Linked DNA regions of Homo sapiens: all the other regions are linked to region 3. Evidence: fine-mapped expression QTL. A gene starts in region 3. Each other region holds a variant in brackets. All regions are shown on one strand. Distances are from middle to middle. Region 1 has its middle 52 kb from the start of RNF144B. Region 2 holds the start of LOC124901271 (a long non-coding RNA gene). Region 3 holds the start of RNF144B (ring finger protein 144B).

Evidence for each region. PIP is the estimated chance that this variant, and not a neighbour inherited with it, causes the effect. A credible set is the group of variants that fine-mapping cannot tell apart.
Region 1: its variant is the best candidate, but not a certain one, in a credible set for the expression of RNF144B in whole blood (TOPMed, PIP 0.69).
Region 2: its variant is the best candidate, but not a certain one, in a credible set for the expression of RNF144B in whole blood (INTERVAL, PIP 0.72).

What each region holds. Positions count from the first base shown.
Region 1 is chr6:18,333,151-18,337,395 of GRCh38, reverse strand. No RefSeq gene overlaps it. Among named protein-coding and RNA genes, the nearest start is that of RNF144B, 52 kb to the left of the region's middle. The variant C/G (reference allele first, on the strand shown) is at 2,196.
Region 2 is chr6:18,417,246-18,421,490 of GRCh38, reverse strand. All of the region lies in intron 2 of RNF144B (ring finger protein 144B), which reads right to left. It overlaps LOC124901271 (a long non-coding RNA gene), which reads right to left and starts at 200. Exons shown (of 2, transcript XR_007059487.1): 1 at 1-200. The variant C/G (reference allele first, on the strand shown) is at 1,778.
Region 3 is chr6:18,385,579-18,389,823 of GRCh38, reverse strand. It overlaps RNF144B (ring finger protein 144B), which reads right to left and starts at 2,474. Exons shown (of 8, transcript NM_182757.4): 1 at 2,194-2,474.

The sequences.
Region 1 (4,245 bases), 52 kb after region 3:
AGGATCCCTTCGGCCCAGGAGTTCAAAGTTGCAGTGAGCTATGATCACGCCACTGTACTCCGGCCTGGGTGACAGAGACCCCATCTCAAAAAGCTCCATAGAAGGGAAAAAAAAAAGTTTTTAACACAGCACATTCTCTCTCGCTCATTTTTTTGTTTGTTTGTTTGTTTGTTTTGAGACAGCATCTCAAAACCTCCATCTCCTGGGTTCAAGCAATTCTCCTGCCTCAGTCTCCTGAGTAGCTGGGATTACAGGCGTGCACCACCATGCCCAGCTAATTTTTGTATTTTTAGTAGAGGTGGTGTTTCACCATGTTGGCCAGGCTGGTCTCGAACTCCTGACTTCAAGTGATCCACCTGCCTCAGACTCCCAAAATGCTGGATTACAGGTGTGAGCCACTGCGCCCAGCTAACACAGCACATTCTCTACCAGAGAAAAGCACAACATTCCTGAGAAGGCACCCAGAACAACTCAACAGAAACATTTTCTAAACTTTATGAAGAAGCAATGACTTGCCGGTGGAGAAGAAAAAAAAAGCAAACTGAAAAATCAAAATTCTCTTACTGCTTTTTCACTCCATGTATGACAGTTTAAACAACTTCTTCCCTTTGAATATTAGAAGTTTACAATCTTCTAGAGGCCAGACGTCTGAAGCGTGTGGAGTGACTGACAGATGTTGCATAGTCATTCAATCCTTCCAATTTGCATTACAATTCAGAGAATGGCAGCACAGAAGACTGCCTGGTCCAGCTCCCTCATTTTATAAAGAAACTGACAGGCAAATTAAATGGCTTTTGCACCTCTCATATTCATTCATGAAAAATAGATACCAGAGTCTAAGTGTTTCATTTAGTGTGGAAATTAAGGGGAAAAAACATTTCCCCCTTAGCCAAAAGGAATTAAGTACACTGGATTAATGGGTTAATAAACAGCCCAGATCATCTTCTCAGAGCCTTTAGCAGGGGCTTCTAAATCTCCTTAATACTTTAATTGGGGTTTTTCATGTAAGGAGAAATAATAGTTCCCCCCTCCACCCCCAAGCCCTGCAAGTAGAAAAACCTAAGGCTTATCATCTTAACATATATTCAAGTTATAATTGTGTGCCTCTTTTAGGGTAGTTTCTAGACCCTGTACATGTAAATGTAAGAGACTCATCCAAAGTAATACTTTCTTGCCTTTATTATGAACACATGTAAAACCACCCCTTTATTTAAGGGTAAACATTGACCTCCTATCAGGGAAATGCTATTGTCTCCAAGTGAATGCCTCATCCCTTTAACCATCAAATTACTATGTGGTTAGCATGACATACACTGGAGAAGACGCCAATAAATCCAAAGGAGATAATTTAAGAATAATAAAACAACATACATGAAACAAATAATAAAACCAACATCCAGACTAATGATCCTTAAGTGTCTGGATACCAATTCCAACTGAAAGAGTTTTCCTATTAACTCCAAGGGAAACCAGTTCTTGGCATCAGCTATCCAGGCAGAAACTCACATACAGAATATAACTTCAGAGAAGTTTAAAATGGCTCTATACACCACAATTATACCTGCCAATTAATACAGCCTATAATATGCTAGGCATGCTAACATCTGTTATTCCACCTAAACTAAACAACCTTGCCTGGCTGTGCACAGTGGCTCACGCCTGTAATCCCAGCACTTTAGGAGGCCAAGGCAGGTGGATCACCTGATGTCAGGAGTTTGAGACCAGCCTGGTCAACATGGTGAAACCCCATCTCTACTAAAAAATACAAAAATTAGTCAGGCGTGGTGGTGCATGCCTGTAATCCCAGCTACTCAGGAGGCTGAGGCAGGAGAATTGCTTGAACCCAGGAGGCAGAGGTTGCAGTGAGCCGAGATTGTGCCACTGCACTCCAGCCTGGGTTACAGAGAGACAGAGACTCTGTCTCAAAAAAATAAAAATAATAAATAAATAAACAACCAATCCTGCCAATTAGAATCATCATTCCCATTTTTAAGATGAGGAAACTGATTCTCAGAGGGCTTGGTCAAGATCAGCCAGCAAATAAATTTCAGGAGCCAGATTTATATCCTGATCTTTCTAATGCTGAAGCCAGAATTTCCTCTGGAAATGCCATGGAACTTTTCCCCCATTAGCCTGAAATTCACACAATTAATTGCTTTCCTTAAACATCTTCAGGAAACATCTTCGTTTTATGT[C/G]AGACAGTGGCACACACTTTGGCTGATGCTTGTGCTCGGATGAGCATATCTGATTAACTCTTACTGCCATCCAGCAGAAAACTGGCTCTGTGGGAGGAGGCCAAGGGCAGGAATGCTTCACCTGCACTAAGCAAAGCAAGGAAAATTAAAGGATTTGGGGGGCAGGCTGGCTTATAACAGTATGGCAGTGATATCCAGATAACAAGTCATCCCATCACAGGTATTACTTTCATACTTTGAACAAATAGAATGAATTATAGAGAAGTTCTATCTAAGCCACTATTAAAAGAGCTCTTGTGAAAATACATTTGGGAAAATCTACAAGTGAATGCAGTGACTATATCTAAGCATGTGGATATGAAGGGAGTCTAAGAATTTGATGATACTACTCCTTAAGAACAATCTAAGGGACATTCAGAAATTCTTAGTTGATTTTACCAGTAACAGTGAGGCACTCATTCATTTAGCCAACACATATTATTCAAGCACATATTATATGCCTGTTTCTAATTTATTTTTTATTTTTTTAGAGATACAGTCTTGCTCTGTCACCCAGACTGGAGTGCAGCAGCAGCATGATTACAGCTCACTGTAACCTTGAACCCCTAGGCTCAACTGATCCTCTTGCCTCAGCTTCTTGAGTAGCTAGCACTACAGGCATGTACCACCACACCCAGCTTTTTATTTATTTATTTTTGTAAAGATGGGGTCTTGCTATGTTGCCCAGGCTGGTCTTGGGCTCCTGGCCTCAAGTGATCCTCTGCCTTGACCTCCCAAAGTGCTAGGATTACAGATGTGAGTCACTGCGCCCAAAGCCTGTTTCTAGATACGATTTGCATCTACCCTGTCCTCAGGCTGCATCAGAGAAACCATGTCTTTATCTTTGGCCTAAGTGGTTCCTGGATGGCCTTTGGCAGGTAACCTTTTGCTATTTCAGTTCCAGCTGGGTAGAAGCTGGCCTGTGACTTCAAAGTTATGGGAAGCAGAGGTCTTACATGTGGTGTTATCTGACATCATCTTAAACTGTCTTTAGGACCAAGGAGGACCCATGAGGTTGGAACAAAGTTATTCTGGGGATGAAAGGAGCTAAGCTATGCCTCCGTTAATCAAAACAAGGCATCGGATGGGTGGGAAAAGCATCTAACATCCTTTGCCCAGAACACCAAATATCCCTTTATGGGAGCTTCTCACTTCCGTTTTAAGAATAAAAAAAGAAGAGAAGGTAACTGGGGTGTAAGCCTGTTGAAAAGAAAATGGATAGCTCACATGTTCAAAATTATGTATTTTAGATGTTTTCCAAAGATTCTGATTACATACGGGTTTTCCAGAAACATGTCATTATATAAAAGCAGGATTTGCTTACTTGAGTATAGGAGTACAAGTAAAGTTATTAGAGATGGCAAAGTTTATGTGGAAAATTATCCCAGAAGCAGTAGCCTACCTAGAAAATTTGACCTCATGTAAATTAATTTGTAACACCATCCTTCTCTATATGACAAAATTATTTTTGTTATAATTGTAAAAAGAAATAATAGCAATGGGCACCATAAGTGGAATAACTTATTGCCATTTTCTTAAAAAGGATACTGAAGGATACAAAAGTAATCCTGTACATCGATAGAGGCTGTGAATAAAGAAATACCCCTTTTGGCAGTTAAAGGTTTTTTTTTTTTTTCGAGACAGGATCTCACTCTTTCCCAGACTGGAGCACAGTGGCGTGATCATAGCTCACTGCAGCTTCAAAATCCTAAAAGCTCAAGCGATCCTCCCCGCTCAGCCTCCCAACTAGCTAGGACTACAGGTACGAACCACCATGCCCAGCTAATTTTTTTATTTTTTATTTTTTGTAGATACAGGATCTCACTTTGTTGCCCAAGCTGGTCTTGAGCTCCCGGGCTCAAGCAATCCTCCCACCTCAGCCTCCCAAAGTGCTGGGATTACAAGGATGAGCTACTGCACCTGGTCAAGATAAAGTATTAAATCCATTTGAACATTCTCACCAGGCAACCCAGACATCTGAGCATGATTCCTGACTTATACTTGAGCTCTT
Region 2 (4,245 bases), 32 kb before region 3:
TTTTTAGTGATTCCAACAGAGAAAGGTGACAAGATCACTGAATTACCACTTAGTCATTGGAACACATCAAACTCAGAGCCTAACTGGAAAAAGCAATTTACCCAAAGTTAAACATCACTCATCACATTAATGTTAACTTACATTTTATTGGTCTGTAATTTTATTTTATATATATGTGTGTGTGTGTGTGTGTGTGTGTGTGTGTGTGTGTGTGTGTATAATATATAATTTTTTTTTTTGAGATGGTTTCTCACTCTGTCACCCAGGCTGGAGTGAAGTGGTACGATCTCAGCTCACTGCAACCTCTGCCTCCTGGGGTCAAGCAATCTTCTCACCTCAGCCTCTGAGTAGCTGGGACCACAGGTGCGCACCACCATGCCAGGCTATTTTGTATTTTTGGTAGAGACAGAGTTTCGCCATGTTGCTCAGGCTGATCTTGAACTCCTGAGCTCAAGTGATCTGTCTGCCTCAGCCTCCCATAGTGCTAAGATCTCAGGCATGAGCCACTATGCCTGGCCTTATTGGTCTGTAATTTTAATCAATATTAAGTTTGTATAATTATTGTGGTGTTCTTATTCTTTAAGAGATATATGCCTAAATATGCTTATATACTACTTAGTATCATGTTTGTATAAGTTTTCGTAAGACTCTAATAAAGGAAATTTTAAAATAGTTTGATATTAAGTTCCAATTCTTTTCCCCTTCAAAAGGAAGCCACATAAAATCATCAAAAGGAGGGAGAATGGACTGATTCTCAATAGCAGTGAGGCTGGTGGTATTGCCTTCTCACTTGGGGACATACTAGAATATCAGACTATCCAGAAGGAATTTTATAAATGATGCAACCTCCCCCGCTCCCCAAATTCTCCAGAAGACTTGGCTTTTCCTCCTCTACTTGCCAACCTTTCTATGATGACCGTAGGTAACACCAGATGTTTATTGTACACATGAGCAATGTAGCACGCCCAGCATGCTGCATTGCAAATGACTATCAACTTGCCTGCCTCCTCTATAGCCTAGAAGCTCCTTCTAGATCTAGATTATATCTGCTCCTCTTCATGTCCCCTACAAGCACCTAATCAATCACAGGACCTGGCACATAGTAGACACTCAGGCTTCTCTGAGAGCTGGAAGCCTGAATCCAGCACTTACTGGTTGAGTATCCCTAATCTGAAAATCCAAAATCTGAAATGCTCCAAAATCCAAAACTTTTTAAGCACCAATATGGTGCTCAAAGGAAATGCTTATTGGAGGATTTTAGACTTTAGATTTTCAGATTAGAGATGGTAGACTAGTAAGTATAATGCAAATATTCCAAAATCAAAAAAAAAATCAGAAACCCGAAACACTACTGGTCCCAAGCATTTCAGATAAGGAGATAGGGGATACTCAGTCTGTGCTCAACTTTGTGGCCAAGCTCCTTCACCTCTGATAACTGAAACATATGAACCCACCCAAACACACATCCATCCTCTGTTCTTCTTTTCTTGACACATAGGAGCCAACTCTGCTTTTCTGGTTCCCATCTCCTCCTGCCTTTCAGGAAATTTACCTATTCATTACCTGTTTTCTTTCCTATGTCTTGAATTTTGTCCTGTCTATACTTGAACATGTTCAAAATATCCTAATCAAAGAAATCAAAGAAAAGTCATAATAAAACAGCATAGAACAGCCCTCTCTCACTCCTCTTCCTGGCTGTATACTGCCTTCTTCACTCCTCAACTCTTCACAATCAAATGTTTGAAAGAGTTGTCTTCCCTCACTCCTTCACCAATCC[C/G]ATCCCAACTCCTCCCTGCCACTCAACTGAAGTGGCTCTAGGTCACTGAATCCAGTACACATTTCTTCCTTCCCAACCTCTCAACAGCAGTATCACACACAGCTAACCACTCCCACCTTCCTGAAACCCTTTTTCCCCTTGTCTTCTGGATCCCATACTCTTCTGGTTTTCATTCTTCCTCTCTAGTCACTCTTTCTCAATCTTCTGCATTTTCCTCAACTCAACTTTTAAATGCTGGAATTTCAGGAAAGGACCTAAACTCTCTTCTTTCTACACTTTCTTCCTGGGTCGCCTCATTTGCTATATAGAACCAGTTGTGCTAGTCCACTGCCTATTTGCTCTCAGGAGAATATATCCCAAAAGGCCAGTGGTTCCCTAGCAGAGAGCAGTGCCCCCGAAGAAAATGATCTAAGCCTGGTATGTTTTTATGGACAAGAAACACTGGAAGATATGGGACACTACTGGGAAGGGTATCCTTAATAAAAAGCCATAGGCAGGAGGAGGAGGGGTGGATGGACAGAGGATAAGGAACTTCAGAGATAACATTCGCCTGCCTTACTATTCAACTACCTTACTGACAATGTTTCTCAAACTTGAATGTCCATCCAAGTTATTTGAGGATCCCATCAAAAATGCAGATTCTGATTCAGTGGATCTTGGGTGGGGTCTGAGGTTTTGCCCTCCTTGTAAGTTCCCAGGTCTCGTTGGTGCCACTGGCACACAAACCACACTTGTAAGTACCAAGACCCATGTCAAAGATTCTCCACATCAGCTTTTTAATAGAATTATCTGGGAAGGTTTCCAGAAGTCCAATGCCCAGGCCATACCACAGACCAATTAATTCAGACTCTCTAAGAGAAGGATCCAGGTGTCAGTGTATATTATATATATAGCATTATTATATATGATATGTAAATATTATATATTTTATATTATGTCATGTTTTATTGAGATATAATTCAGATATCTATAACTGAGATATAATTCACGTACCCATACAATGCACCCATCTAAAGTGTACAATTCAGTATTTTTAGTATATTCACAGTGTATAACTATCACCAAATTTGATTTTAGAACATTTCATAATCCCAAAAGAAACTCTGTGCCCATTAGTACATGCTCCCCATTTCTCCCCCAGATCCTCCATGCACAGCCCTAGGGAACCACCATTTGACTTTCTGTATGTATAGATCTTCCTACTCTCTACATTTCATATAAATGGAATGATACAATATATGGTCCTTTGTCAATGGCTTCACTTAGCATAATGTTTTCAAGATTCATACATGTTGTAGCATGTATTGGTACTTCATTTATTTTATTGCTGAATAGTATGCCATTGTGTGAATATACCACATTTTGTTTATACTTTCATCAGTTGATGGACATTTGGGTTGTTTCCAGTTGAGTGGTATTATGAATTATGCTGCTATGAGCAAGTTTTCATGTGGACATACATTTTCGTTTCTCTTGGATATTTACCTAGGAGTAGGTATGGTATATGGTAACTCTATCTTTGCCTTTTGAGGAACTGCTAGATGATTTTCCAAAGCAATTGCATCATTTTCCATTCCCACCAGCAGTGTATGAGAGTTTCAACTTCTTTAAATTCTCATCAAAACTCGTTATTTTCTGTCTTTTTTATTATAGCCATCTTAATGTGAAGTCGAATATCATTGTGGTTTCGATTTGCATTGCCCTGTTGGCTAGTGATTTTGAGCATCTTTTCACATGCTTATTGGTAATTTGTACATCATCTCTGAAGAAGTCCCTATTCAGAACTATCTATACTTTCATCTATTTGTAACTGAGTTATTTGTGTTTTCATTACTGAGTTGTAAGAATTCTTTATATATTCTAGCTGTATCCCTTATGAGATATGACTTGCAAATATTTCCTCCCATTCTGTGAGTTATCTTTTAACTTTCTTGATGATGTCCATTGAAGCAAAAAGGTCTTTAATTTTGATGAAGTCCAATTTATCTGCTTTTTCTTTTGTCGCTTATGCTTTTGGTGTCACATCTAAGAATGTCTTGCCTAACCCAAGATCATGAAAATTTTTCTATTTTCCTATGTTTTCTTCTTCTAAGAGTTCTATAGTTTCAGCTGTTATAGGTGTATGGTCCATTTTTGTTAATGTTTGTCTGTGGTATGAGGAAGATCACAGACATCTTAATTCTTTTGCAAACAGATATCCAGTTGTCCAGCACCATTTGCTGAAAAACATTTCTTTCCTCTTTGAATTGTCTTGGCACCCTTGTTGAAAATCAAATGACAAAAAATAAGATTTATTTATTTATTTATGGACTCTCAATTCTATTCCATTGATCTATCTGTCCATCCTCATGACAGTATCACAATGTTTTGATTACTGTCGCTCTGTAATCAGTTTTGAAATGAGGAATAGAGCTCTCCAACTCTGTTCTTTTTCCAGATTGTTTCACCATTCTAGGTTGCTCAAATTT
Region 3 (4,245 bases):
GAGCAATGGCTACAGATACCTATTCCCCAAAGTCCAAGTGAAAAGCATGACTTGTCTGGCAGCTTGGCCCTTTTCCCACATCCAAAATAATCAGTTGTACAAAGTAGGCTTAGTCCCAAAACTGCTCAGACTTTGTTCCTTCAGTAACATCTGGGTTCAGCATGATTCCTGACCTCTATCTCAAACTGGAGATTTCAAACACTAAAAACTTCACTCTCCAAGAAAGTAATGTCATAAAGTCAAGGCCAGGGGAAACAAAGAAGCCAGGATTAGCAGAAACACTTCGGAGAAAGGATTCTGACATACATATAAATGTTTCTAAACGTCTAAAATATTGAAATGACTTTTCAAGAAGGAAATTTTAAGTGCACCTCCTCAGATGAAAAATATTCATACTACTGAGGAGAAAGACGTTTTTCAGGAAGTTAAATGGTCATACCAGGTAGATAAAATAAGCTTTTTCTTTCCAGAGAGAGCATACTCTTCTCTCTGCTGTAGAGTTTGGCTCCAAAAACCTGGTTCATAATCTGAGACCCAAAAACTGATTATTTTAAAAAGACATGTCTTAAGCTGACCTAGTTTGGAAGCCTGAATGCCTTTAAATTGCCAATGAACTGAAACCATTCATGAGAATGGGCCTTTTGAATGCTGAGAATGTTCTTTGGGACTCAGCACAAAGATATTTGGCATAGATGACTGTAAATATTTGTAAAACTCTGGGTAAATGGGCAGGATTTGACCACACTCAAGCCCGACTTCCAGCACAGTAGTGTAGGAGAAAGTTATCTAGGGTGATTGTTTGGGGTTTTGGGGGGTTTTTTTGGTTGAGTTTTGTTTGTTTTAAATAAAAAGCCAAGCAACCCAATTCTACTACTCAACATCTTTTTCACGTTCACTATATATGTTTACCTTTTTTTAATCAAGATAATTAATTAGTCAGAGACTACTTTTGAAACTGAGGTTTTTCCCTTTCCCACTTTTCTAAGTTTATGCCCACGACAAAAATAAAAAAAAAAATGCCAGTCAAAGGTGTGCAAGGGCAGAGCAGGAGTTGTGTGAAACCATGACCTTGGATTTCATAATACAATTATCTACAAGTGGCTTTGTGGATCTGCTATAGGTTTTTCTCCCCCTCAGGATAGTTTTAGAAGTATTTAAGGCACTGCTGTCCATGAAAAGGACCCAGGTTGTGAAGGAAAGATAAACTAAGGAGAAGGAGGGACTCACAGAGGGATTTGATGTGAAAGGGACCAAGAGGCTCATTTCAGTGAAAGCTGCGGCAGACAGATACTCTAATTAGCCAGCAACTCAGTTAGGACTGGCTAGGTTCCTTTTGCCTCTTACCCACACCCTAAAAACTGAGTCATCCCAAAGTTCATTTATTTTGCTTCTGGGCACAGACACCCCCTAATCTGCTTCCTCAGAAATGTTAGATACATTGCCATTTAATTTATACCTCTCAATGTTCAAATAAACGTCCAGAAATGCCAAATCGGAAGAGCAGAGATAGTCCTGTTAAGAACCTCAGAGCTAATGTTTTGATAAGATACATGTGGCAGAAAGCAATATGAAACTGACAGTCTGTTATGAGAACATGAAAAAAGAACATTTCCCAGAGAAGGGAATTAATTTCTGGGAAATCTTTATGTGAATAGTGTATATGCATGAGGAGTAGACTTACAGCAGGATCCTTGAAACTCATGAGAAAAACAAAAGGTGTTTTAGAAAGAATAAGCAAAAGATACCTACCTTTTCCCTGCACAAACGACAATCAGTTCGATTTTAACTTAAATTTGAGAATGGCTCTCGTAGTATCAGAGTTTCACTGTTTCATTAGCAATTACCTGATAAAATAAGCACTATAATGCATAATCCGAGATTATGCCAACTTTTGGTCTCCCCTTAAGACCTAGGGAGAGGTCTGGTCTAATCTCGGATTCTACAATACATTCTATTATAGAAACTGTTTTATTAGAAATGAAACTACTTTCCTTTAACAAAGGCATTTTTCTTCTAAGTTAACAGGTGTTTAAGGCATTCAGAATGAATTCAGTTCTGTATGGTTTGAGCACTAGAGACAGAAAATCGAAAAATTGTGGTGTCACAGTGAGTTTCCTGTCCTTTTTCCTTAGTCCAGCAACACCATTCCGGTCTTGCAACGCCTGTAGCCTTTAAAAAGCTCGCTAAACCTACCTGGCAGCAGACCTGCGTTCCTCCGTCGCCGGGCTTCTCAGTAGCCTCCCTCGCGCTCACCGCCAGTCCGGGCTGCTGGCACACCGGACAGGAGCTCTTCCATTCTCTCCGTCTTTCCTCCGTGCTCTGCGGCTGACAGCTTTACACTTTGCAAGACTGCAACAGGACTTGCGCTCCCAGACCTACGGGTCGGGAGGAGGCGGAGTCCCCGACCGCCTCCTAGCCTTGACTGGCAGCTGCGATGCCCGGGACTGTTGCAGCGGGAGCGTGGGGCACAGCTCGCCAGCAGCGGTAGCAGCGCGTTTATTTATACAGGAAGCTCAGGCGCCGCACTTCCTACTTCCCATGTGGGTCGTACTTCAGCTGCAGGTGTTGGCCTTAACCCTATCCGAACCCGGGCGCGCTGCACCGACTCTACTGCTTGTCAGGACCTGTCTCTTGTTCTCCTGGGACCGCTGTTGCAGGAATTCAGAGCAGGGGGTGCAGGCAGCTGCCCCTAGCGCACTTCTTCTGCCCAGACAGGGACAGCTCACCTCTTGGCCTTAAGCGCCTGCTACCTCTCTGTCTGTACATATCCTCACAGGCCACCTTTCTTTATTTTCTCCCTCCTTCCCAGCTCTTTAAATCTCTTTCTTCTACTTCTAACAGCCCAGACCTGCCTTCCCACGTGGCAGACAACTGTTTTATAGAAACACTTCCCATGCACATCTCATCAAAAAACAGCTTGTACCTCACTTGTCCTTTTGCATCTAATGATGAAATTAGAATACCTGTGAATCAAATCGGGAATAATCTTAGTTTACCTCATAAAATACAGACACTTCTTGATGAAACAATGATTTCACTTGAAGTGCTTTGTAACTTAACTGGTTGTACCCTCAATTAAACAAAAATGTAACAAAATAATCCAGAAGCTGTGAGGTATTATGAAGTGCTTCCTTGCTCCAAACCCTTGGACACTTCATTTGTGTGACATTCATAATGAATCGCATACCTACTCATTCCCCATATCCCCCATAGATCACAATCACCTAAGTCTGCTGAACATTGCCATTTAGGAATGTCGCTCTGACACAAGAATCTGTGTTCACTCTGCAATCCCTCTCTACTTTTGCAACCACTGTCAGGAATGTGCTTCCTAAAAGGAAGGGACTCACAGGCCCTTTGTGGAAAGGATCTGTGCACGCCAACAGGCACCATTCCAAACGACACAAGCAAACATTGCTTCTCAGCCCTCCAAGTTGAAGAAAACCTCTAGGTCAAAGCAAAGTGCTGAATAACACAGTGTATCTACATGTGCCATGCTAGGGCAGGTAGGAGGACCAGCTCACCAGTCAGGGAGGAAGAGAAAAAGGACAGGGGCAATAAGATGATAAAAGAACCCACGGTAGGATATTTGAGCTTGAAAAGTCTTCCTAGCTATTTTAGCAAATAACCTGATTTTAAAAATAAGGAAACTGGGCTGGGTGCGGTGGCTCACATCTGTAATCCCAACACTTTGAGAGGCCAAGGCGGGCAGATCATCTGGGGTCAGGAGTTCAAGACCAGCCTGGCCAACATGGTGAAACCCCGTCTCTACTAAAAATACAAAAAATTAGCTGGGCGTGGTGGTGGGTGCCTATAATCTCAGCTACTCGAGAGGCTGAGGCAGGTGAATCGCTTGAACCTGGGAGGCAGAGGCTGCAGTGAGCCGAGATTGCGCCATTGCACTCCAGCCTGGGTAACAAGAGCGAAACTCTGTCTCAAAAAAAAAAAAAAAATAAGGAAACTGATGTCCAGGAAGATTTAAGAGATTGGCCCAAACCAGACACAGGCCAAGCTAGAATGAGACCTAAATCTGAGTTACATGAGGAAGGTGAATGTAAATGAAAACCATCCCAAAGGAAGTCCAACCTTCAGATTTAGCAATGGCTTAGGTTCTGAGATAATCTATTTCAAGGAATTTTCTTGGTATAGTGACCATTTTGGTGGACAGGAACTAGGAAAGATAAAAAGCAACCTCTAAGAGGTTAGTTTATTCATTGGTGTTGATGCAAATCTCCTGAGCCTTAA